2 separate regions of the Homo sapiens genome follow, and region 2 is linked to region 1. The links come from fine-mapping of genetic effects on gene expression. A gene starts in region 1. The other region holds a variant in brackets. All regions are shown on one strand. Distances are between the middles of the regions.

Region 1 (5,388 bases):
TTTTACAAATAATTTTAAAGTTTTTTTCTGCATCAGCAAATGATCATTATGCAGGTTTTCTTTTTGTTTCTTTTCTCTTTTTTTTTTTTTTTTTTTTGAGACGGAGTTTCACTCCTGTTGCCCAGGCTGGAGTACAATGGCACGATCTCCGCTCACAGCAACCTCCGTCTCCCGGGTTCAAGCGATTCTCCTGTCTCAGCCTCCCGAGTAGCTGGGATTACAGGTGCCGTGCCACCATGCCTGGCTAATTGTGCATTTTTAGTAGAGACTGGGTTTCACCATGTTGGTCAGGCTGCTCTCAAACTCCTGACCTCAGGTGATCCGCCCACCTCGGCCTCCCAAAGTGCTGGGATTACAGGTGTGAGCCACTGCGCTTGGCCAATTTTCTTTAAAGTAGAATTTATATGAAGAAACAGTTTCTGGATCTCAGGTCCTTATATTCTTGATCCATCCAAAGTTTTCCTTCCTCAAAGGATTTTCCTGCCTCCTTGAAAACTTTTACTACCTTCCTCTGCCATCATCTGTATCCATTTTTTCTTTAATTTAAAAATTAGTGATTAATAAATGTTAATGGTGATAAAAAGTCAGCACCTCTGAGCATCCTCTGGCAGACATTTAGAAACAGTCTTAAAGGGGACTTCCCCAAAGAATGCTTTTTGAAAATTCTAGCAGGATATTTCTCTAATTCCTAGCTGAATAATCCCGAGGCTGAGTCCTCACTGTCTCCCCTTTGTCCTTTTTACTGTCCAAAAAAGAGTATCATTCACTTTAATGGTTTCAAGTAATTCTTTCAAATGGGTTCAAATGGGTGAGTTTTACATTCTATGACCTTATTTTCACCTTTTTTTTTTTTTTTTTTTTTTTTTTTTTTTTTTTTTTTTTAGACAGAGTCTCACTGTCGCCCAGGCTGGAGTGCAGTGGCACAATCTCAGTTCACTTGCAACCTCTGCCTCCAGGATTCAACTGATTCTCTTGCCTCAGCCTCCCGAGTAGCTGGGATTACAGGCGTGCACCACTATGCCCGGCTAATTTTTGTATTTTTAGTAGAAATGGGATTTCACCAGTTGCCCAAGCTGGTCTCGAACTCCTGACCTCAAGGGATCCACCCACCTTGGCCTCCCAAAGTGCTGAGATTTCAGGCATGAGCCACTGTGCCCAGCCCTTTTATTTAACTCTAATTATGACATCGAAATGTCCCATTGAGAGTCTACATTGATATGTTTGAAACAAAATTAACCATATTCACTGTAACCACCACCACTTCTGGTCAAGGCAGTTCATTTAGGCCATGATGGCTACTTCTTAGGAATCAAGGGTTTCATAATAAACAGGTAATCAGTCAGGACTAAGGAATAGGGACAAAGACAGAGACCAGATATATGAGCTGGGCCAAAATGAAAATAAAAGAAAGAATTGAGTGAGGTTAGAAAAGAGAACTGTAGGCCAGGTGTGGTGACTTGTGCCTGTAATCCCAGCACTTTGGGAGGCTGAGGCGGATCATGAGGTCAGGAGATCGAGACCATCCTGGCTAACACGGTGAAACCCCATGTCTACTAAAAATACAAAAAATTAGCTGGGCGTGGTGGCGGGCGCCTGTAGTCCCAGCTACTCTGGAGGCTGAGGCAGGAGAATGGCGTGAACCCAGGAGGTGGAGCTTGCAGTGAGCTGAGATCATGCCACTGCACTCCAGCCTGAGGGACAGAGCGAGACTCCATCTCAAAAAAAAAAAAAAAAAAAGGAGAACTATAATTTAGGGGTAACAGAATTATATTCTACCTGGGGTTTTCTGGTTCTAAGTATGGTTGGTACCAAAATGGGTTGAGGACCACACAAAGCATTCATTTCCACTACTGGACCTTGGATACAGTTCTTAGGTCCATTGACCCTGTTCTTAAGTTCATTGGCAAATGGGGCTTGGTTAGGACAAGATTAGCCAGATTAGAAAACTGGAGTGAGATAAAGCTGGCAGGCCAGTGGCATGTGTAGATACTTGAGAGACCAGAAAAAGGTAAGAACAGAGGGTGGGGGAGAGAAAGGAAGAACACTGCCAGAAGACACAGCCCAATATGTTCCTTTATCTGACTACTACATCTGAAGTTCTTCTTACTACTATTTAATTCTCTTTACCTATTTTTCTCTCTTATACATAGACTTCTTTTTAATAATACTCAATGTATGATTTTTTCATGTAAAATGTTATCTAAATATATCTTCACAATACTCAGGTATGAAAAGGCAGAAACTTTTATTACTGTTTTACAGATGAGGAAACACGAGAATGTAAGTAATGTTTCAATATAGTTAATAAGTGGTAGAACAAAGCATAGAATCTAGGCTTCCTGATTGCAACTCAAAGTTCCTGCCATTAGACCCACTGTACCACTCAATAATGTAGGCAAAATTTATGGCTAACAATATAACAAGGATCACCCTCTCTAAAATATTGCGTGTTCCCTTCACAAAAAACTATGTCTCTGCATGACTGTAAGCATGTTAGTTACCAAGTGCCAAGTGACCTTGGTTTTAAAACTGGGCAGATAAGTTAATCTCACTGGCTTTCTATTCTTATTTAGCTTGTTGCTGTAAGAGGTTTAGAGTAGCTTTCTGAGGGCATATGTTAGCCTTCAGTTTTAGTGAGGAGTAAGGGACTAAATCCAGCAAAAACTTAAGTGAAAACAACCTGAGGAAAAGCTGTAGACTGTGAGTCAAGATGGGGAATGGCAAATCTATAGCTGGTGATCAGAAAGCAGTTCCTACACAAGAGACCCATGTGTGGTACAGAACATTTATGATGGAATATCCATCCGGCCTGCAAACACTACATGAATTTAAGACACTTTTGGGTCTGCAAGGTCTGAATCAGAAGGCCAATAAACATATTGATCAAGTTTATAATACCTTTGACACGAACAAGGTAAGATCTTTCATTTTTCATTTCATTTGAAAATGCTGTGGTTCTGCACTCTTCCCTTTTTTTTTTTTTTCCTGTAAAATAGCCTTAAGTAAAATGTGTACATCCCACTGAATGGAGAGGTCTTCAGGCAACTCACAGCTTGTAGGTAAGTGAGTCATTAAATACTTTTAGTACTGACGGCATGAAAATAATTGGGAACTAGCCTCTCCCACCCTAGGAAGTGTTCTGCATGTAGGGAGTTATTTTAAAACCAGATTAAATCTCGGCATGGAATTCTAATGCTATCATTTAAATAAATCTAATAAGTACAGATTGATTTACAAAGACTGTTTTCGAAGTATTTAATGCATTGGTGACATTTTATAGAAAAGCAAATTACAGGACTCTGCTTTTAAAAGTGTGATTGCATCTAGATTGGCAGATATAATCAATACAAATTAGCCAACATGTTGTCTGTACTCAAATCAAAAGTTAAACTGCTTCATATTACTTTTTTCCCCATAGTTTACCAATTTAGTTTGGGAAAAATGGAAGCTTAACAGTTTTAAATTCAGACAAATTTTTGTTTCTAAAGATTGTTACTCAACTTTTATCTTGAATTTACTCATTCCTGAGGAGCTGTAGTGCATTTAATTTCATTTCTTGAAAAAATACAAAGAAGAGAAAAGAATATATGGAATTGAAAAAAAAAAGAGAGACAAAAAAGCAACAACCTGAAATATCAGGCTCAGGTTCTGCCTGCTTTTACTTGTTTATTTTGGTTATTTTACTGTAGATTTGTATATTTCAAAATGTGTAGATATTGACTAGAATAAAAAGGAACAGAGAAAATGCTAATAGAAAATAATGACTTTAGAAGGCCATCCAACTGATAATAGAAGAGAAAGAAGGGGAGGTAAATTGAGTAAAATTAAAAAAAAAACTGGTTGTTTGATAGGATGTGTAGAATTTAGCAAAATACTTTAAACCAAGAAGCAGGTGACTTAAAAGGAGGTAACAGGCAGGAACTTGGGAAGATTAAACCTGTGCAAAATTAACAGCTGTTTTAATCCTTGTAGCAATGTCAGGAACAGATTTCTTTAGGACATTATGGTATGGTCTTTTGTGCTTTGTTACCAAATATGAGTTAAGCACTGCCTGTTCAGCATGACAGTGCTTTCCTCCTCATCAATTTTACTTAGTGTCAATGCAAGCAAAAGGCGATCTTCAAGGAGCTGACAAATCAGTGGGAAAATGTGACAGATTCCGCTTTTGTTATTAATCCTGGAAGTGTGTTCCAGATACTATAAGCATGATGCCACGTTGTCTTTATTTGCCTCTCCCTGTGTATGTCTCTCTCAGCTCTCAATCTCAGTTTTCTCTTTCTTTCTCTCTGTCATTCTCTGTGCTTCACTCTTTGTATGGCTGCTATAAGCAGCCCAATATCAGGATGAAAGTCTGTTGCTCTAGACAGCAGCTTCTTAGGCTCTAAGTACTCCTGAGAGGTTAGAAAATGAGCTATCGAGTTTTACAGTTATTATCCAAAGGCGTTGATGTCATATCCCATGCCAGCCGTTAGGTTGCTAGCCCAGTATTTGTGAACGCATTGTACATGTCAGTGGTTCACATGCAAGAGTGGGAACATGTGGAAAGGAGTCCTGGGTGGAAGCAAGGATCTGCTGTCAGATGAAGCCCACTGTCAAGGAAGCAGGGACAATGTCCAAACAGGTGTGTGTGTGTCCTTGGTGTGAGAGCCCTCTCAGTGTCCACCACAGGAATGGCCCGACCCATCCCAGGAGCTTAATTTAGATGGCTTGGAAGTTCTGCTGCTATTCATCAAAGAGATTTTATGTTTGCTTAGGAAGGAAGTGAGCCTAAGCAGTAATGACAAATGCCACAAAAGGTGTGGGGATCTCAATATAAAATCAGGTGGTAAAATGACAAGGGTAAGGATTGTTCATTATCAAGTGATACTAAGAAATGATGTGCAATTATGCACAGGAAAAGTCATATATTTAATTAGATGAATTGATAAAACTAGCAACTGTCCAGAATCCCCAAAGATTTACTATTTCTATGCAGCTTCTCTGCAGTTTTCTTTTTTTCTTTGTGTTTTTATAAGTTCGACTTTATTTTTTAAATTTTATTTTTAAAATGAATTTTATTGTGTATGTCTAAGGTATGCAACATGATGTTATGAGATACATATGGATAGGAAAAAGGGTTACTGTAATGAAGCAAATTAACATCCATCATCTCACATAATTACCCATTTTTTGGTCTTTGTGGCAAGAGCAGTAAAATCTACTCATTTAGCATGAGTTGCGTATAAGTATAATTTTATTACTGTAGTCCTCATGGTGTGTGATGAATCTCCAGACTTGTTCCTCCTACATATCTGCTACTTTTATCCTCTGACCTACATCTCCCCATTTCCTCTTCTCCCACCCCACTCCTCGTAACCACTCTATTTGATTTTTTTTTTAGATTCCACA
Region 2 (5,388 bases), 190 kb before region 1:
AAACAGAGGAGAATAGAAGAAAAGAGATGGAGAGAGAAATCAAGAAAAAAATCAAAGGAAAGATAGAAAAATGAAGCGGGTTTACAAAAGACAAAAGGTGAAAAGCCACAGGGCAGATAAAGGAAGTAACACAACAGAAGGCAAAGAGGGTGAAAGGAAACTGGAAAAAATGGAGAGGGGTGCTGAATTGCTGACCGGCTCTCATATCCTAGTGTCCTGTTCAGAGGTCTAACAGGGGCCGAGGTGGGGTGGCTCACACCTATAATCCCAGCACTTTGGGAAGCCAAGGTGGGTGGATCACCTGAGGTCAAGAGTTTGAGACCAGAATGGGCAACATGGTGAAACCCCGTCTCTACTAAAAATACAAAAATTAGCCAGGCATGGTTGTGCATGCCTGTAATCCCAGCTACTCAGGAGGCTGAGCCGGGAGAATCGCTTGAACCTGAGAGGTGGAGGTTGCAGTGAACTGAGATCACACCACTCCACTCCAGCCTGAGCGACAGAGAGAGACTCCGTCTCAAAAAACAAAAACAAAAACAAAACAAACAACAGCAACAAAAAAACAAAGGTCTAACAGGATGCTTTCTAACTGACCTTTTAACTCAGTAACTTCCACTTTACTGGCATTACAATTGCTGACATATTGAATATTTTGGAAAGTAAACAGGAAGTGGTGTCACTTGGGTTTAACTTAAATCTGTTCTAACCTGCTCTTAACACACATACACAATGTTGGCACTCACTCTTATGGCCACAGAATTTCCTTGGACATGTTTTTGGAGCTGGTGGTTCTTTTATTACTTTTAATCTTGTAGACATGGAAATTCATAATTCATGAAAGGCAGCATTGTATTTGATTCAATAGTGACTCTTTCTGGGTCATTGCCTACATGTGTTGATGGGATCCCCATCTCCATATACATATGACAGATGATGCCATATGTGTAGGAAAACAGTTTTTCTACAGCACCCAGACTGCTCAATGAATCTAGTCATAAGCAATGACATTGAGACAACCAAGTATAAAGGGGTCCCAGGAGAACCTCCGACCAGCCTGGTCACTGGGAGAAGGGGTGGACCCACGGAAGCTCAGGCCGTTTGCAGCGGGGAGGGGCCTGGCCCTTCCTGTTCCTGTGTAGGAACCTGGGATTCAATCTGTGAAATGAGGGCCTGTTAACAGGAACCATTCTCCTACTTTGCTGTGTTGTTTTACCGTTTTCCTTTTCGTCCAATAAATTCCGTCCCCTTCACCCTTCAAAGTGTCTGCGAACCTAATCTTTCCTGGTCACATGACAAGAACCTGGATTTTCCTACAACAACATTTTTTTTTCCAGCCAAATTATTTTCCAGTTTATTCTCATTATGTATCTTCTTGAGAGTATCAATCAGTCATAAGCCCAAGTGAGTAGGTAAAATTAAGAACAAAATCTTTAAAAATAAACCAAAACTGTGTCAGAGAATACAGAATCTCTAAGGAATTGGAGGGCTGCAGGGATGACTGAAAAGGGCTAGTCTTCCTATGGTAGAGAAGAAAGCAAAAAGAAAGGGATTGGGGATGCTGACAGGGTTGTGTGTTAGAATATGTGAGCTTAAAAGCTCTTGTCAAAAAACAAAGCAAATCAAAAATCTTTCAAGACAAACTGGCATTGGTTACTAACTGTGGAGTGAAAAATAAGAGGTGGAACTACCAGAGGAAAAACAGACCAAAGGCAGCTTATTATTCTCCCTGTCTAAAACCAGAAGACATACTTGCACTTTATGGACAGATCTGATCGCAGGTCAACAATATGGGCATGGACCCCCAAATCGTTTCGTGTATGGGTCAACTCCAGCTGCCAAATCTGATCAGGAGAACATGATTGCTAAGGGAAAATAAATCTATTTTTCATTTTAGCAGAAGAATGAAAGCAATCCTTTAAAAAAATACACAAATGAGAAACAACAAAAAAAACCCAGTATAAATCTTAATAGCGTTCAAAAGTTGGTTCACTTAGAAAAACACTTTTCAAATTTGTTTTTTTTCCATATTTCCATATTTCCTTTGTATGTGATATAAAGCTGTTTGGTTTTAATAAATGCCCTGTTGCTACTCTTCACCATTAGTACAACTAGGAACTGTCACTGAAAGTCATTGGTGGTGTCCTGGTTCTGCTCAATTTTGTCAGGTAAGGTCACCCAGCTTCTTAACTCCTGGTTGTTTCTTATGGAAGCAACGGCTATGATACTGCCTCTACCACTTTTTCAAGAGGACGTCTTGCTCTGTGAGCTGCTGCTAGCCCATGTCAGTCACTGCAGTGCCAGAGGGGAGAGTTTGTGTAGCAGAAAGAAGAGTTTTGTTCTCATAAGTGGTAGATGTAGGATTAGGACATGAATGCAGCTTCTACCATTGATTGACTGTGTAGCTTGGTCACTTGAATTCCCTAAGCCCTCAGTTCCCTCTTTCTGTAAAATGAGGAGCATAGCATCTATTAGTATTTTCAGAGTGGTCATGAGAACTGACTAAGATAGCCTATGCAAAGTCCCTGACACATAAAAGGAATTTAAATTAGTAGCATTAATATTTGCTGATTTCATTATAGAAGAAGGCAATTAAAATTTTTTTTCTTTATCTCTCCTTCATTTCTGAAAGAAGGCAATTCTTGACCTAAATGTTCAAGACAGGTTTATATGCTTATTTTTTAAATCAAATCACAACACTTGAACTTCTAATTCTCTGACTAGAGAATCAGCTCCAATGCGTATAAGTTACTGTTTTGAAAATAATCAATAACTTGTCAACTCTGCCCATAAATTTAATTACTTGGATAAGGCCTTTCATTGTTTTTGGCCTCAGCATTCCCATCAGGAAAATAGATAAATGAGACCTTCTCCCTACCTCCCTTAAATCAA[A/C]TTCTAAAGAAAAGTAATTTGTTGGACGACTAAGCTATAATAGAGAAAACTTAAAAAACATGAAAATAAACTTTAAAAAAAAATAGTGGTTTTCTTATAATAAGCAGAAGGGCTTCAGAGAAGTACAGATGAATAGGCTGTATTCTTAAAAGAAAATGTGGAGGAAAAGAAGCAAAGAAAGTTCATTCAAGCTACTACTTTCTTCTCTAGAGCTACATGATGTAGAAACTGTCAGCTAAACCAGTTATTGTAATGAATGAATCCAGTTCTGAAGGCATCAGTCTCCTCAATCTGCAAGCAGTGAAGCCTTCTTTCCTGAGATCTGAAGGGCTAATCCAGCAGTGTGCATACACCTCTGTCCTTAGTTTCTAGTTCTCAACTTGCTATTTCATAAACTTCAACTAGATAACTTTATTATTTTTTTTTAGAGTCAAGTCAATCAAACCAGTTGTCTTTATAGGTAGACATATTTGTATCTCAGTTGGAGTTGAAGTAAATTCAAACTTGTTTCTTAAGAAAGTCTTTGAAGCCTCTTTAAAAATTTTGCAGAACCATTTCCTTTGTCAAATATTTTTGACCCTGAAGCATTCATAGGTGAATGTGGACCAGCCAGCATTGCTTTAGCCTTGCAGGCATCCACCACCGTTACCCCCTCTAAAGTCAACTGCACGGATCAGTGGTCAAAGCAAAGCATTACACTGGTGAGTTATAACCAGCTAATGTCTTTAAATTACAATGTGCTCTGAGACACTCACTTAAACTGAGCCAGCCTCACTTTCTTCATCTGGCAATGTGGGCTGTAATTGTGTATGATTGTATATGCTTTGGTTATAACTGCTTAATAATAACTTGGCTAAAAATGTTTCAATCACATATTTAAACATGACCCAACAGCAAATTGCAATATTTATGATTAAAACTCATTATTAAAATTATTTCTATGTTTAGGAATTGAAGGCTTATTTTATATATATATATATATATATATATATATATACACACACACACACACACATATATACATCTATCTAGCTGTGTGTGGGAAGGGCTTCAGGAAAAATATAATTTTTGTGCATGAGTCTCAAGATTTTCATAGAAGCAAAAGTTTATTCTAATTTAAGCATCTGCATCAGAAATATTTATAAATTATAGAGATTTAACCATGAAGATAATTTATATCTTTGTAAGTGTTTTCAGTTTTTGTTACAAGCAAAACAAATGACCTCTCAGTTCAATTTTGATAGAAGCCACTGAGTTACCGGGTCATTTTGGCAGCAAATCGCCTGGCCTCTGGTGCCTTCCTTGATCTGCCTTTAAAGCACCACTTTGAGCTACAGCTTGCCCTAAAGGTTAATAAATTCATGTTCCCAAAGTACTTTGAGGTCTTCATATAATGGTACTATGTTAAGTATTATACTTCTGAAAGATATTTTAAAATTTTCTTTGTTCAAGGACACAACAGCACTTATTTGGAGGCAGCAGCAATTAGGCTTCTTAGCAACAGTATCATGTTAATATATAATTAGAAATAAAATGATCACACACACACACACACACACACACAGTTAACATTAACATGTTCAAAACCACAGCCTTCTACAATAGTTTGGTTTCCCCAGTGCTATAGAATAGGCCTATGGATAAAAACGTGTTTGTTCATTTCTTTAAGAAGACAAAAGGAATTATCAACCTGATGGCTGTAGGAGACATGATAAATAAAAAAGAAATAGGCTCTTACCGATAAGCAATGTTGAGCACAGGACTACTTGAAGCATTTTATAGGCCATGATCCTATTTTGGGAAAAAAAAAAGATTTATTTACTTTAATTTAGCTGGAAAAAGCCTTAGGGTATATCAGGTACTTTTCAGAAGTATAAAGCATTTGTTGCATACCTGGAAGCCCTGTGAGCTGAGACACAGAGAGAGGCTGAGGTGGCTTTTTTATACACCTCTTGCCTTTTTACCCTTTGGACTTTTTGAACTGGCTTTTTACAGGCTGTTCTTATGTGGGTAATTTATTTATTTACTAATTTTACCATCTACATAGATTAACGTAATGTTAAAAAAAGGTAGAAAAACTGGATCACTCACGTATTGCTGGTGGAAATGTAAAATTTTCCAGTCACTTTGTAAAACAGTTTGGTGGTTTCTTAAAAATTCAAGCTTGCAATTACTGTCCAACCCAGCAATTACACTACTGGGCCTTTGTTTCAGAGAAATAAAAACTTAACGTTAAGAAATAATCTGTAGAAGAATGTTCATAACAGCTTTATTAGCAACAGGCAAAGACTAAAAACAAGCCAGATGTCATTCAACAACTGAATGTTAAAGCGTGATATATCTATACCGTGGATTACTACCAGCAGTCATAATAATAACTATTAAAAATAATAATTATTGGCTGGGTGTGGTGGCTCACACCTATAATCCCAGCACTTTGGGAGGCCAAGGTGGATCACCTGAGGTCAGGAGTTCGAGACTGTCCTGGCCAACATGGTG

Direction of the effects. Alleles are on the strand shown, and positions count from the first base shown. SD is a standard deviation of normalised expression in the study named.
For the expression in prefrontal cortex of the gene that starts at base 2,594 in region 1, allele C in region 2 goes with a higher level than allele A (moderate effect, 0.68 SD a copy in CommonMind).

The links. PIP is the estimated chance that this variant, and not a neighbour inherited with it, causes the effect.
Region 2: its variant is the best candidate, but not a certain one, in a credible set for the expression of GUCA1C in prefrontal cortex (CommonMind, PIP 0.73).

What each region holds. Positions count from the first base shown.
Region 1 is chr3:108,951,085-108,956,472 of GRCh38, reverse strand. GUCA1C (guanylate cyclase activator 1C) reads left to right here and starts at 2,594. Exons shown (of 4, transcript NM_005459.4): 1 at 2,594-2,914. The coding sequence starts at 2,711.
Region 2 is chr3:109,136,136-109,141,523 of GRCh38, reverse strand. It overlaps C3orf85 (chromosome 3 open reading frame 85), which reads right to left and starts at 4,805. Exons shown (of 4, transcript NM_001351622.2): 1 at 4,783-4,805; 2 at 4,628-4,680. The coding sequence starts at 4,676. The variant A/C (reference allele first, on the strand shown) is at 2,890.